Regions from separate parts of the Homo sapiens genome. Here region 2 is linked to region 1. Evidence: fine-mapped expression QTL. A gene starts in region 1. The other region holds a variant in brackets. All regions are shown on one strand. Distances are between the middles of the regions.

Region 1 (8,000 bases):
TGGACATCACTGTGGCATTTTTTTCAAGCAAAATGAGGTTTAATTTTATAGTATTTATAGAATAGAAGTCTTTGTTATATCCTATCCTGCTACCAACTTTTGTGTTCTATGCAGTCTCTGCTTCTAACCAGAGGCCCAAAGCATGTGTTTAGAAACTGATGTGGGGTATCAGGATCAATTAGTCCCTCTAGGAATTAAAAGCAAGCAATTGAATGCCTGTTAACAATGACTAACTTGAAAAATATTAGCAATTCTAGGCAGGCCCCTTTGCTTTCTGGACGAATGCTCTAGGCAGGCAGCATTCCCAGGAATATTGGTTTCCAGCTATGTAGACTGTCCCTCAGTTATAAAGTTGCCTCCAGGGTCTTTGCTATGGCTTTGATTTGAGGATGATTATTATTCTTATGGATGAAACTTTAGTTCTTCCTAGAAAGGCTTTCAGCGATTTGCATGCTCTTTCCAGCTGCCCTCCAAACCTTGCCCAGCCTTATTTTTCTCCATCATAAAATGGGTACACAGGTCATTTTTATTGGATAGTTTGGAGGACTAAATTGACTGAGATGTGGTATATGAAGTGCTGATCTTAATGTCTAGCCCATACGTGGTCTGCTGTATATGTCTTGCTTTCCACCTTTCTTTCTTGAGAAGTTTCTGCATACATATATTCTTATGTAGTTATTGTATAAATAGTGTATATGGAAACATTCCCGAGGTTGTATTTTCCTGTTCTTTCTTGATTTAGAAAACTAAAACTACAGTAATTTTCTGCTGTGTGTAAGAGAGAAAATGTGCTTATGAACTGTATTCAGCAAACTTAAAATGTTGAAGCTCTTGGTCACCTTTTTATGCCCAGTAATGATAAACTGTCAATTTGCTTACGTTATTTGGGAATTTACTAGCAACTTGCTGCAGATATCACAGTAGACACATCTCTTATAATATGTATGATCTGAAAGAAGCAGCAGTCTGGTAGTTTTTTGTTTGTTTTATTAAAATAAAAACTTATAAACTTATAAAAACAAATGAACAAATATATTTATCCTAATAGCTCTTCTGAGTTTGCTTCTGAAATCACCTATATTCAATATAGACAACAAAACCAATTGTTTTTGCTATTCTCTGAGGTTTTTGAGTTTGAGGGTTTGAATTTGATTCTAATTTTTAGAAATGGGCAGTTGTCTGAAATATGGAGGGATGGGAAAAGCCTTTAATTTGGAGTAGGAGTGAGGAAGGAAACCCAAATGTTATACACTTCAGTCAACGTATTTGTTAGAGAATTGAATTATTCTCTTGAGGTTTTTTTTTTTCTCTTTGTTAGCAACTCGAGATAGATTCTCCTGCCTCTACTAATATTGAAACCCTGGAAAATGTTAACAGAACTACAGAGGGGAGAAATTATCAGGATGGAATGTAGGCTTTGTGTAGATATGCAACATTGGGGGCACTCAGCAGATGTTAATAAATACCTCTTTCTATTGTTGAGAAAAAATGGGTTTGATTTGGGTGTGAACTGCAGTGGTCAATGAAAGGAACTTGTATCTCACCAGGGTGTGTTTTAAGCAGTAGAAGAGGAATCTGGGTGTTGATCCAAGTGACGTTGGTTTTTCATACCAAATTATTCCCCATTTTTAAGGGTTGTCATCCCCCTAAAATTGTAAGCTCTCTTGTGTCCATGTCATATGCTTTCTTGGCAGTCCTTGTGATACATGGCTGTGCACACAGTAAGGTTTCAATAGATCCTTGTTGTCTGAAACCAGATATTTGGGAATTTTGGAGACAGAGTTGACGAAGGGGTGAAAGGAGGGCTGTGGGTAGAGAGTAAGAGAAATAGTCAAAGCAGAGAGAGAATTAAATAGAGAAATGGCCCGGGGAACCAGAAAAAAACCAAGGTTGGTGAGCAATGAACCATTTAAGTTCTCCTGAGAAAAGAAAAAAAAAAAAACTGGACTGAAGAAAAAATTTAATCTGAAGAGTTAATTAACAAAATTATAAAACCTCTAAAACATCCCTCTCATTACAGTTGTAGTTTTAAGACAAAAAAAAAATATCGTGGAAAGCACTCTAATTTGTCCTAGGAATCTATTTAATTTTGATTTGTCCAGTAATAGAAATTTGAGGGGGAAATGCAATATACTGTAGTTTATGAGTCTTTTAAATGTTGTTACTTCTGAATTCCATCCTCTTTGTGATAGTGAGAGTGAAGAAAACACAAGTGTATTTGAAATCACTTCTGGTTTCAGTGCATGTGCTGATTTGATTTTTTAGAAGTAGAATTAGATGGCAAAAAATAAGAAAACCCTAACAATACAATCTGGGCAGGTTAGAATATCAAAAATTATAACGAGCCTGTTCTAATGTAAAGAACATCTCTAAAAGATGTGAATAGGTTTTAAAAATATGATGAATATCTAGCATTGGATAAACACAAATAAAGGTATCAGTGAATATCACAATGGAAGAATCACATGATAATAATTAATAAACATTGACTCTTCTTGGCCAGGTGACCAATATTATTTCACAGTTGATCCTTGAGGGCAGAGCCAATGACCTTTGTCCTGAATTTTAATAATTTACTGAAGTTTTACATTAAATCAGAATATAATTGGGAAGAAAATTAGTGTTTCTTTGTGGGGAGTGCAGAGTAATGCCACTAATTGCTTGTATAAAAGCATTCCCGAGGTTGTATTTTCCTGTTCTTTCATTAGAAAATTAAAACTACAGTAATTTTCTGCTGTTTATAAAAGGGAAAATGTGCTGGTGAACTGTATTCAGCAAACTTAAAATGTCAAAGCTCTTGGCCACCTTTTTATGCCCAGTAATGATAAACTGTCAACTTCCTTACATTATTTGGGAATTTACTAGCAACTTGTTGCAGCTCTCACAGCACACAAATCTCTTATAATATGTATGGTCTGAAAGAAGCAGCAGTCTGCTGGTATTTTGTTTCTTTTGTTCTTTCTTTCACTTTAATATTTGAGCAATTTAATATTTAAAATATGTGTTAGGGCAAATAACCATGTTTTTCTGTTTAAGGAGATGGACAATGAAGAACAGTGTAAATTAACCTCAGTAGAATAATGCTTTACAAATTATATTTAGGTAACTGGGGGATTGTTTTCAGGTAAATTATTATCAAGTAAAAGAATTGAGCTGATTCTAAAAGTATATTGGGTTTAACATTTTATGAAAACATGTTTATTCACACAGATACATACACGTGTACATCTCCTGGGAACTTGGAAGGGTTAAGTCAGACCACTGTCATGTTACAGGAAGTGTTTTTCCACTGTGTCCAGTACCTTGAGTTTGTTATGTATTCAATATGTAGTGTCATCATAAAACAGTTGCACCTACCTGCATTAGCCCTCATTGTCTCAAGGTACAAGCTGAAAAATAATAGAAAGTAAAGCTCAGGAATTGAATATTTCTGCTAATAGTGTGTTGGTATTTTTCCCTCAGTTCACAGACATTCTTGATTTCAAAACGCAAACTACACAACCCAGGGCACTAGGGTTGGAATTCAATGTTTATTCAAAAAGGCACCCTAAGGCAGTTAGGGAGGAAACGCTACATGTATGAAAAATAGGAGCCGGGAATCAAAGCTGATCTGAGCAGAGCAGCAGCGACTGTATTTACTAACACTTGTTTTCTGGGAGCCTATGAGAGAAATGGAAATAATTAGAAGGAAGCTGAAAGGATGGGGTTTTGTGGCTTGTTCTCCTTATATGGAGCAAAGAAAACTGCAGCAACTCTTCGGGAGCTGGTATTCCCTACTGCCATGGGGGCAGCCGAATTCTGGGTGGAGGAGTTTGTTTATACCTTAACACATACAGGCTATTTTGTTGATTAAACAAGCAAAAAAAAAAAAAAAAAAAAAAAAAGCCCCGTTTGCGCTTTCAAACACTCCCTCAATGAGAAAATGTCTCATAAAAATGCATCATGTGATAAGCTCTTGCTTTAGTCCCAAACTGAGCTTGAGTCCACTTGGAGATCTTAGAATTAAAGAGTTCTTAGGGAATACACGTTTTAGCTAAGAATATAGTTACTCTGTCATGAAACAGGGAGCTTTGCCACTTGCTTGTTTTGGAAGGAAAATAAATTAAAAAAAGATTGCAGGGGATTTTGGTTATTATATGGCCAGGGCTCCGTTTAGAGTCTGTGGCATTCAAAGCTGGCTTTAATCACAGCATGATGCTTGAAGCCTCCAAAAGTCTAAGTGTTTCCTTTCTTTCTTTCTTTTCTTTTTCTTTCTTTTTTTTTTTTTTTAAAGCGTTACTTCACTGAAGCAGAGGGCTGCCTTTGAGTGACGTCACGAGTTAGAGCAGCAAGCTGCACAGGGGAAGGGAGGCTGGGTGAGTGACAGCCCAGCCTACTTTTTAATAGCTTTGTCATGTGACTGGGGACTGTAGTAAGACAGGTGCCTTCAGTTCACTCTCAGTAAGGGGCTGGTTGCCTGCATGAGTGTGTGCTCTGTGTCACTGTGGATTGGAGTTGAAAAAGCTTGACTGGCGTCATTCAGGAGCTGGATGGCGTGGGACATGTGCAACCAGGACTCTGAGTCTGTATGGAGTGACATCGAGGTGAGCTGGGGCAGGGCTCGGCGCTGCAGCCACAACTGACGCTTCCCTCAGATGCTATTATTCCTGTAAGGGGGGATGGGCTTGGGCAAAGAGAGGAGCCAGGAAAGTAGTCCAGGCAGGAGCTTTTAGAAGAATCTCAATCTTATCTTAACTCCAATAAGTTTGCTATTTTAAGGTGGCTCTGAGATGGCTTGAGCAAATCAAAGCTTAGCTGCTGTCATCAGTATCTGTTGCAGTTAGAAACTCTTTCCATGTGACTTTGGCACTGTTTCTACTCATATGCAATATTTATGCTCTAAGATATTGATATGAATCAGAAGCTGAAGTCTTTCCAGTGGTGTTTAGTGGCCTGGTTGGAAAAATGCCATTTCTATTTATAATAAGACGAAGATAAAAATATTAAAATGGATGTGTTCAAATATAGTCCGTTTTGACTCTAGTCCGGATTTTTCCCCCCTCTCTCTCTGTTCATCAGACAGAGAACTTACAAAATCCTAAATAATCCTGCTGGGCTATTTTAGATTGCTTTTCCCACAGAACACAAAACAACGATGCTGCTTCCTTTAAAACTCCTATACGTGGTTGAAAGATTTGGCCAGCGAATAAAAAGAAACGCCTGGCAGTGCAAGGTTTTCCGTTCGCGTCGGTGGCAGGGAAGCCAATGGTTAAATCTTCCTGTACCACGGAGAGCTGCCTGAAGCTGAGAGAGAATAGAGTTTATGCAGGACTGTGTGTGGAGCTGCTCGCTGCTAGTGTAAAAATAGACAGCAATACATCAATTCCACAGTCTCTGCTGGCTACAATTCATACAGGGGGGAAAATAACGCAAGCAGTTTCCTCGTAATCTCTGGAGTCTAGTGGGGGGACGGAGGACCTCGGCGTGTTTGCATTCAGCACAATGGAATGCTCTCGGAAGGAAAGTTTGGGCAACTTGGGAAACAAGCAAAACTTTCTGTGGACTCTGGTGAGATGGACTCGAATTGAATTGCATGGAGGATCCCAGCTGCTAACAATGAATCTGGCAAAAGACTGCGAGTGTTTCCTCTGGGTAGCTGGGGGCACGTAGGGTAAGGGGGAGGATCAAGCCCACACGTGATTTGATTAAATAAGATGTCCATGTGGTGCAGCGATACACATCTAAAGTGAAAATAATTTGGCCAAGGCCGTCTGTGAATGCATTTTTCCTATCTAGCGAGGCATGCCCGGGATTCTTAACTCTTTGCTGGGTTTGCAAATGTTGGCTCCATTTGCCCTCCCTTGCCTTGGTAGATCGTATTTGTGGATTGTAATTGTTATCTTGTTCTGATTTCTTGGTAAGGCGGAATAGATATGGATAATTCATATGCCCTGTAGCCATTATGAGTCAGGGTTATAAGTGGCTTCAAAGTCCTAATTGCCTTTGAGTAGCCGGAGTGTCCTGTGGGTGGTTGTCTGGCTGGCACTGTGGGTCTCAGCTGCTGTAGTTTCATTTTTCCATCATGTATTATTCCTGATGCTGTTAGGAGTTGATTGAGGAACTAGATCATATGGAAATAAGGAAGATTTATTTTAATCATTGGAATTCCTGCAGTCATTTTCAAATAAACATCAGAAGCATTTAGAATAGTGGCCTTTAAATTTTTTTCTTAAGGAGGAAAGGTCTTGGCTACTTGTCCAGCCATGGATAGAGTCGCCAGTCGGCTGAGATTGGCCAGTCACTTCTCTGTTGCACTATAGGCAGCTAGCTGCTAGAAGCTTTGCCTACATGGCAGCGGCTCTGGGAATCACCTCCGCCTGTATAAAATATTACGAGCAGCAGGTAGCGTTGGCAGTTTTCATTTTTTGAATCATTAATGTTTGCTGTCATCCTAAAACGTATTATGCCCTTTTGCACATAATGACAGGGTAGTACATTGGTTAATATAGGCCTATATCACTATAGCTACTTGGAGTGCCCCGTGTTTCACAGTTTAATGAAGGTGATATACAGTAAGGTTACTAAGATTGATAGAGACAATTCACATGACATACACCCCACTAAGACTGTCATTCTTTACTGCCCCTCTCTCCACCCCCTTTCCCCTGTCTTAACTAATTTTTTTAAGAACCCAGTTTCTTTTTTCATTAATATAATTAATGTGGCCAAGTCCACTCCTTCTTCTCTCTCTCTCTTTAAAATTTACCATCAATGGCACAAAAACCTCCAAAAGGTTAATGGAGAATTATACTTAATTATAATGATTCATTATCATCAGTGCAGTTAAGCTAATTTATTGTCTGCTCCTTAACTAAGAGAAAAGTCTGTTGGGGTGAAATAACATACAATAATTAGCCTTTTGTGTTTAGTGACTGCTTTATCCTCTTAAATCTTATTATAAAATTGAGGCTACAGTTGTGAAATAGCTGTCATAGTTGCAAAGAGGCAGTAGAATGTGTCTGTGTAATTGCAATAAAGCACACCTGTTACAGAGGTATAGGGAAACAGTAAATATCAGCATGTCAGATGAGGACAGTTACAGGGCTTGGACTGTTAAGTCTGGCATTGTCCAAAGGCCAAATATAAATTAATAACAGGAACACTTGCTACCACTAATGTGTTTTAGATTAGCAGGATAATGCCACATTCAGAAGCACAGATTTTATTAGCATGTCAACATTGGCAAGAACACATGCACTTTTCTCAACCATAACATAAAAGCAAAATGAGAGAGAGAGAGAGAGCGCACGAGCGAACAAGTGAGAGGAAGGAAAGGAATATGTAAATGACAAGATAGCACCAATACAACAAATTGACCTGGTCTTTTCAATGGTTTTCAAAAGTTATTTAAAAATACATATTTATGGAAGGTTAAAGGGTTATGAGCAAGTCATGCCAAAGAGGGCAGTTAAAGAGAGGGACAGGAAGAAGTTGTCCACAAATCAGTATGCTACTTTAGCATTCCAAAACATGGTTGGTTCCTAAGTTTCACAACAGGAACTTAAGCCATATGTAGACAGCCTACATTTTCTTGATTATTTTTACTTTTGTGTTGCTATTTTTGTTGTTCATGTTTTTTTTTTTTTTTTTTAAAGACTATGCCCCTATAAAATCCTAGTGTATCTTGCACCGTTGAAAAAGTTCTCCCCCATCTCTGAATTGGTGACATTGAGGAAAAGTTAAGATAGTGTGTTTGGGCTTGGAGGATCAGCTGTGTGGGCAAGAATGGAGTCTGGGCAGTGTTACATCCACAACCAAATATGAGCATTGTACCAGAACGAGATCTCTTCAGCCCAGCCTCCAGTTACTTATATGCCTTGTCAAGTATACTGATCTGTAATTTTGGGCTAACTCAGATAATAAAAGGAAAGACCAATAAAATGATAAGGAAAGAGTTTTGATGGTGAGGAGGGCCCTTTCTTTGCATTCCCTTGTCCCTGCTGCCAGGGATCTCACTGGGG
Region 2 (8,000 bases), 150 kb before region 1:
GAAAGGGATAATGAATGAATAATGGAATAGGAGAGGTAAGTAGCAGCCAGAAAACAGAGTCTTCAATGGTTTGTCAGTCAGAGTGGGCTTGCAGCTGTGATCAACAACCACCACCGGCCAGCATCTTAACACAACAGGAGTGAATTTCTCATTCATGTAGCAGGTAGTCTTCAATATCAATCCAGGAACTCAGGTTCTTCCATCTCATGGGCCCGCCATTTGCTAGGGCCCCAGAACTCTATGGTGGACCTTTGCATCAAGTGGCAGATATGGGGACAGACACGGCTTGAGAGGCAGCATGAGAGATTTTTGTGAAACATGTTGGAAATAGTGCGTGTCATTATCGTTCAGATTCCATTGACTAGAAGAAACCCACTCACATGGTCATACTTAACTGCAATGAAGGCTAGTCAGTGAACTCCAGCTGTGTGCCCAGGAGAAGAAGAAATGAGTTTTGATGAACACATAGCCAACAGCACATGCCACACAGGACATACTAAAGATCTTAGATTTTATCCTGAGCACAAAGGACAGTCACTGAAGCAATTTAAGCTAGTCAGTGGTCGAGTTTGCATTGCAAAAAATCAGTCTGGTAGAAGAAGGATGGAAGGGTCCCCAAATTCAAGTTAACAAAGTGACTCATTTATGATACAAAGAGGGCCTGAACCAAAGAAGTGGTAGTGGGAGTGGGGAAGAAGGGGCTCCTTTGAGAGAGATGGAAGAGTTTGGAGAGGGTTGCAAATGACTGGATGGGAGTGGAGAGGACAGGAATCAACAGAGAAGGTTCAACAACTACTGACTATTATTTCCTAAGAGAGGAAACCTAGGAAGAGAAGAAACTTGTGAGGGGGAAATAATGTGCTTGATGAACAAAACAACCTTATTGCTTTTTTGTTTTCCTGACTCCTTTTAGTGAGCCTGCTTTCCAAACCATTATAGGGACATATGTTCTGACATGCTCAAATAAAGTTGTAGGGCTGGCATATTTATAATCAGGATTATTTTAGGATGTTCAGGGTACATTGTTACTCTATATCTTCTGTACTACATAGTCCATGTTCATGTACTCACAATATTTGTTCATTTGACATTTATTGAAGTCTTAGTATGTGGTAGGAATTGTGTTTGGCACCTGAACTAAACTGTGGCCATCATCACCAGAAACAAATAATATCATGGCTTGGTGACTGTTGCTAAGTATTTGGGGTCTTTTGGTTGATTGGGCTATGTGATGTAGCCCGTTTTTGGTAGTTATATTGATTTTAGACTGTGAGGTCAGGAAAGGCCTAATGTATTTATTATGGGTTGAATTATGTGATGAAGCTTTAACTCTCAGTACCTGTGAATGTGACTTTATTTGGAAATAGTCTTTTAGTCTTTTCATAGTTAATCAAATTAGAGTAAGGTCATACTGGATTAGTGCAGGTCCTAATCCAATTACTGGTGTCTGTATAAGAAGAGAGAAATTTGAAGACAGACACACGGAGGAGAAGTCCATGTGAAGACAGAGGCAGAGATTGAAGTGATGTATCTACAAGCCAAGTAGCGCACCAAGGATTCCTGGCAACCACCAGAAGCTAGAAGAGGCCATAGAGGATTTCTCCCCTGGAGTCTTAAGAGAGAGCATGGCCCTGACACCTTGATTTTGGACTTTTAGCCTCTATAACTGTGAAAGAATAAATGTTGCTTTAAGCCACTCAGTTTACGGTACTTTGTAATAGCGCCCCTAGGGACCTAATTCTGTGTTTTATGTGACAGTACCAAACACAAGAAGTGTTCTGGCAGAGATAGGGTGGTGTATCTTTGCTCAGCATCTAAACTAATCACTGATTTTAAAAATATATTTATATTACAATATTATAAAACTATTTTATACTTATTCTCATATCACATTTCCACAGTAGAGAAGAAACAAAGGCTTGATGAATTAAGAAACTTGCACCAGTTGACATAGCAGTGAGTGATATTGAGGGCCTCTGGCACCTGCACACATTCCTGGAGCTAGAATGATCTCTTCTGTGTAAGAATTAGGATGTAGGCTCTTGCTGAGTCATCATGTACCACCCAGGGAAATTAGGAAGCAGTGACCCTGCTGGCTGTGGGTAGTTCCCCCAAGAGCTTCTGTGCTCAGTAGGGCTTAAAATACTTGCCTGGGTGGAAAGGCTCACCTTTCTTTCTCTCTGAGCACCGCCCAGAAGTGCAAGACAAGTGCAAATAAGGAGTTTTTCTGAGTTGTCATGTGAGCTGTGTGCAAGGAGGTTTAAGGACTGTTGCCCACTTAAAATGTTTCTTTGGGTGTTGCCTAAGTGGCCTGCCAGCTGCTGGAGGGTGCAGTGTGCTTCCCAGTGACCAGCCTTGCCAATTAACTGGGTGCCCTGTGCTCTGGTGGAACTCTCTGTCACCACATGCCATTTTGAGATGCACCCAGTGCTCTTATGGCTCAGAAGTTCTGCAAGCTGAATGTATATGATGTCTGAAATATCGCAGAGCAGTTCAATATGCCTAAGCCCACATTTTTCATGCCAAACCTGGGATTAAAGACGCCATCTTTTGGCAGAATGAAACCCGTTAATGCTGGTGGGTAGTTAGGAAGCATGCATTCTTTCCTCAAACACTTCCAAAATGGCTGCTCTGACCCTACAGAGGCTTCTGTGAATCCGTGAATCCGCCATGATTTTGACTAATGATGCTGTATTTCCTAATACTTTTGCTGTGCTTGCAGGCATCAGAACGGTTCTTTTAAGAGACTCATTATGGTACAACTCAGATTAGAATCGGACCCTCAAGGTCTTTTAAAAGACGAAGGATTTGTGAGAAACTGTGACCAGGATGACAAAGTGGCGTCTCATTTGCTTTTTATGTAAGTGAATGCTCAGGAAAGCTGAAAAGGAGGCTGTGGAAAAGCCAGACTCAGTTCCTTTGGTAAAGGCAGCAGGGGTTCTTGTTTAGACTCAACTGCCATCTTCTTGAAGGAGCTTCAGCCTAGGCGTTACGGTTGACATCTCTTAGAATGCAATTAGTGGTAGTGTAGTGACCCAATTTGACGCTCTTTGTTAAGTGAAAGCCAGCGTACACTTATGGCATTTCCAGGCCACATTGATCTACATGGATGATATACTCAGAAGCCAAAACCACTGGCTCTTTCTTAACCTCAGAATTGAGGACAGGTGGTTTCTTTCAAATGTCCTTCCTCCATGTCTTTCCAAGTTATTTATATTGTGGCAGGTAGGGGCAGTGGAGGACAAAAAAAATAAACAAAATTCTATTCAATTTTCAAGTTTCTTGCTATATAGTAACCCGTTTAAGATAAAAGCAACAACTACCACAAATACCATAGCTATGTTTTAAGTATGTTGTATATACAATCCTCTTAGTTACCTAACATTATTTACCCCATTTTACAACTAGGTAAAATGAATCTAATAGTTTACAAATAGATAAACTATTACCAGATAAATTACTGGGGTTGGACTGGAGAGCAGTGGGTAGAAAGGTATAGAAAAGATATCATAACATGCGATCGATGAGGTAACATTTAAACTGCCCAAGGAAAGGCATTCTGTATTGGTAGAGGGAAAAGATGAGAAAAGGGGTGTTTATAATGAATATGATCCTCCAGGGAATGAGGATGTAATTCACCTGGAACCCACAGTAACACGGAGTAGAAAAAATGAAGTTACAGTAAAGCCGGTGCCAGACTAATAAGGGTTTTGAGTCTCAGGCTGTAGAGTTCAAACAATTTCTTCTTTCAGTAGGGCATGAAGAGCACTCGAAGAGTTTGAACAAGTTGAGTTGGAAGGGGGATGATCAGGACTGTGCTTTTAGTAAGATTAATTTGGCAGCAGTGTATTGGATGGCGTCGGGATAGGGGACATAGGTGAGCTGGAGACAGCAAGGAGGGAACCCTTCTTTGGGCTTCTGAATTTAGCTGCCCACTTATTCTTTCAAGATTAAACAAAAGTCATCTCCTGATTCCATAGGAGAGGACCTGTGTGGGGAAAGGAAGAAGGAAAGGCACCCCAGTTTTCTGATCCCAAATAGCTGCCTACAAAATTGGTAGCTTCCTGACAGATTAGGTCATCATGAGAAAGAAAAACCAAATTTTGAGGCACTCTCTTGGTATTGCTGATTACTGCTGTTAATGAGAGTCACCAAAACAATCAAGGAGATCTTTGTTAACAAAGAAAATAATGTCAGATAATAAAGAGAGATGCTTCACTACTAATACTCTATGTGAATGATGCAGTTTATGTATCTATGCATTCTTCAAAATTAAGAATCTTTTATACCAATCTTATTTTTTGGCCTAAAAAAGAGAATAATTTATATACCCATAGGGCACATATGCATTTATATACACTATATCATGATATTTAAACAAGTGTATATATTTTAAAAAGTGACTTTTAACTACTGGGTCATTAAGATGACTGACATGAGAAAGCAGACATCACCTAAGGTTTTTATTCACATGGTCTTCAGTTGACATTTATGTGGTCCGGTATCTATTGCATTGGCTCCTTTGTTCCCCTCTGTGTTCCCACACAGAATAGCTTAAGCTGTCAGTGGCTTAAGGAATATAAGTAGCATGTGTTTTCAGGAATCAAGGATTATGCAGTACACTTTAAATTTTAATAGCCACTGATAGAGACCTCAAGAGATTCAAGCTCACTGGAGTGTTGGACTTCAGCTTGCTTGCTTTCTTTCATCTATAGAAAGATGCTCATTCTGGACTACAGAGAAGGCATTTAGGCAGAGAGGATGACTATTTGAAGTGGAATTTGTGTTGCATCACAATCCATGCCTGTTTTCTATTGGGGTGACTTGGTGTATACATTTTTTAATATTATGAA[G/A]CCACCAGTGTTAATAAAAAACAGCTGAATACATATTGGCATCCTTGGAGATCAGGCATGGGAATGCTGAGCGGGGCTGGTAGACAGTAGAACTTTAAGAAATCTCTTTCAGAGATTTTTGAAGACATTTACTTATCAGTTGTCCAGATGGCACTTGAAATGATTAATAATAAACTTTACAAGGAGGTAAAACCATGACTGGTGGAAAACACATTCTGAGTGTATATGTGATAAATACATAATATGAGAAATACGGAAAGAAGTAAAATTAAAGATTCCATATACAGTCATATTTTTAGGTTGATTATTCAGAGATTTCTTTCTTTTCTTTCTTTTTTTTTTTGGTGGGATGCCTTCTGATAACCTCATATCTCACAATCTGACACCTGAAAGTAGGACTCTTTAAAGAACAACTTGTTACCCATATAATTCACTCCTGAAAATAAAAACTGTTTTCTTAAAAATCACTTTTCCATAGTAGGATTCATACTTTGGGATCCATGTATGTGCTTCATGGGTGTGTGTCGAATCTTTGACATTGTATCAAAAAGTTCATGTTTGTGACTATGTGCATTTTCTGCAGAGAATGATCTCTATATACTCTTTTCATTTAGGCTTTCAAAGGGGTGTGTAACCCTCAACAGGCAAAGAACCACTGGGTTAATAGAAGGTAGACATATCTGTAGGATTCTGGCAGGTAGCAGATGGCACATACAAATGGGGTTAGAGTTTAATAAAGAGACTATTTTCGAGATATGGGAAGGGTTAAAGAAATCAGCAGGTGATGACTCCCCTAGGGCTAGCAACAGTGGGAGGCCAGGACCACCTGGACCTGAAGATGCCACGGAGGGAGCTAGTTCCAGAACTCAAGAGAGGGAAAGCTATCACTGTTAGAGAGGGAATACTTCAGGAGTGTAGCCTTTGGTGGAGAAATGCAGCCCTTTCTAAACTGTGCCCAGCAGGGAGGAGTTGGAGGGAAAACGTCCCACTTCATTTTCCTCTTGACCTTGGCTCTATTGTTAGTGCCTTCCAATATCTCAACCTAATCAGATGTGGAAGGCAAGAAAGCCCATTGACACAATCTTTAAAGGTCAGTCTCCCAGGCACAGGCAATAGAGAAGGGTGAAGCATAGATCTGGAAGAGCAAATAGAGAATTCCCTGCACAGGGAAACCTAGCTAGCATGTTTCATTATAATCCCAATGTCGGTTCTCCCACTGCCAAGATGAACTGTAGCCAAGTTCTCCTATAATAACTTGAGCAGTTTAGAAATAGTCACATCCTAGACTAATGCAGCTTTTTCTATTTGCATGTTTTCAGTCTTCTACTTCTAAAGGATGGTTTCTAATTGAGCCCGGTGAACATGAGAGAATCAGCAGCTTAAAATGAATTTCATGTTAAGATAATTAATATGGATGTTGGGAAAACGTTTAAGGAAAGGAGATAGCATATGAGCACATTTTGCTAAAATGTTAGAAAAGCAAGGAGGAAAAATAGTAATTTATTCCCTGCTATTGAAACAAAACTATGGTTGCACTATATTCAACAGAACTTGTAGTTTGTTTTTATTTCAGCGAAAGACTCAGATCTGTAAGCTCCGGTGTTGCATTAACTCATTGTACAGAGTTCATTATTGTAATTAGACTGCTTTTTAAGTTTATTAGTGGACTCACTAATGTACTCTTAAAAAGCTTTATTTGGAAGGAAGTCAATATCCGAAGCCAATAGAACCAAAGAGCTTGTGCCACACGCTCTCTTGCTGAAAATCATGTTATCAATTTTCATGTGACTGTTAATCAATTAGAGTGACAGAGAGATGTTTTGAAGTCAATTTTCTGTTTATTGCTAAATTAGCATTTGATTACATCTGCTTATTTTGGGTTTCAAAGAGGCTATGGTTTCCTTTGTCAAGAGACAGAATGGAGGTCAGTGATGAGAAAAATCATTTGTGCTTTTTAAAATATTTGCACATTAAAATGCAGAGTCTACAAATAGTCACAGGGCTAAGATGGAAGATGTGTGTATGTGGCTGGATTGGAACAGGTAGCATAGGAAAACTGATCTGATGATGTCGTACCTAATGCAAAGATACCTAGTCAGTGTGTAGCCCAGGAAATGAATCAAGTATTGGATGTCTATTGGTTGGTTATCATGTTGTCCTCAAAATAGACAGAAATTCAGTTGTTCAAACTGGAGAAGCATACTGTATATGTATACTGTCTTCAGGATGGGATGTGGAGATATCCTGGCTATTGTGGAACAGTGACAGTGCTATGTTGTGGCCAAATGGTTGGTTAGATATTGAGAGTGTCAATAGCATTTAAATGAAAGCTATGAAATGATACAGTGAAATGACACTGGACATGATGATGATGGTGATGATGATCATGTTGATGGTGGTGGTGGTGGTGGCAGCAGTGGCTGTGGCTACGTTTCTATCGAGTGCTTACGTATGCTTAACACTAAGCATTTTGGAGAACATACTTCTATAAGCAACTCTAGGAGTTGTTCTCCATTTGTGGCAAGTTGCTTTAGGAATTACCATCTTTCTTTAATAGAGGAAGAAATGAGGTTATAGAAAGATTAAGTAGCTTGTGCATCACTGAGGTTGAGTTTTGTCCAATTCCAGAGATTATGAATTTGACCATCATCCTAGATGTTCTCACTTGGCATCAGAGGCCTCTTTTTGAGACCTCCCTTTGCATTTTATAAGCTGACTGATCTTTGGGCTCCATTTCCTCATACATAAAGCAAGGGATTAAGCAATATGAGCTCTAAGATTCTTTGTAGCCTTAAATATTCACATTCTAGAACTATCCAGAAGGGAGCAGTTCCTCCCAAATGTAGAATATTATGCCAATATTCCAATTATAAATCAAATACTAGGGAATCTGGAATGCAGACATTATATTTCTCGTAAGAACCTCAACTCCTTGCAATTGTGTGTTTTCAATTACTCGGTGGTGTAATTGAATCACTAAAGTATAGCTTCTTAATTTATGTTGTATAGCAGGTGGACAAGTTTACTATCAGGAGTGTTGCACATTCTGACTTTTATCCCGTTAAGATATGCTTCCAATTGGAAAGCGAATAAATTACTTGGGATTTGTCGATGATTCACAGTTATAGAGGGAACATTAAAGCTTTG

Alleles and levels. Positions count from the first base shown, and alleles are read on the strand shown. Sizes are in standard deviations (SD) of each study's normalised expression.
For the expression in fibroblasts of the gene that starts at base 4,440 in region 1, A is the high allele of the variant in region 2 and G is the other (small effect, 0.14 SD a copy in GTEx).

The links. PIP is the estimated chance that this variant, and not a neighbour inherited with it, causes the effect.
Region 2: its variant is fine-mapped to the expression of PPARGC1A in fibroblasts (GTEx, PIP 0.96).

What each region holds. Positions count from the first base shown.
Region 1 is chr4:23,886,487-23,894,486 of GRCh38, reverse strand. It overlaps PPARGC1A (PPARG coactivator 1 alpha), which reads left to right and starts at 4,440. Exons shown (of 13, transcript NM_013261.5): 1 at 4,440-4,583. The coding sequence starts at 4,530. RefSeq lists an enhancer at 7,765-8,000.
Region 2 is chr4:24,039,109-24,047,108 of GRCh38, reverse strand. It overlaps a transcript of PPARGC1A not described here. Among named protein-coding and RNA genes, the nearest start is that of PPARGC1A, 150 kb to the right of the region's middle. The variant G/A (reference allele first, on the strand shown) is at 4,854.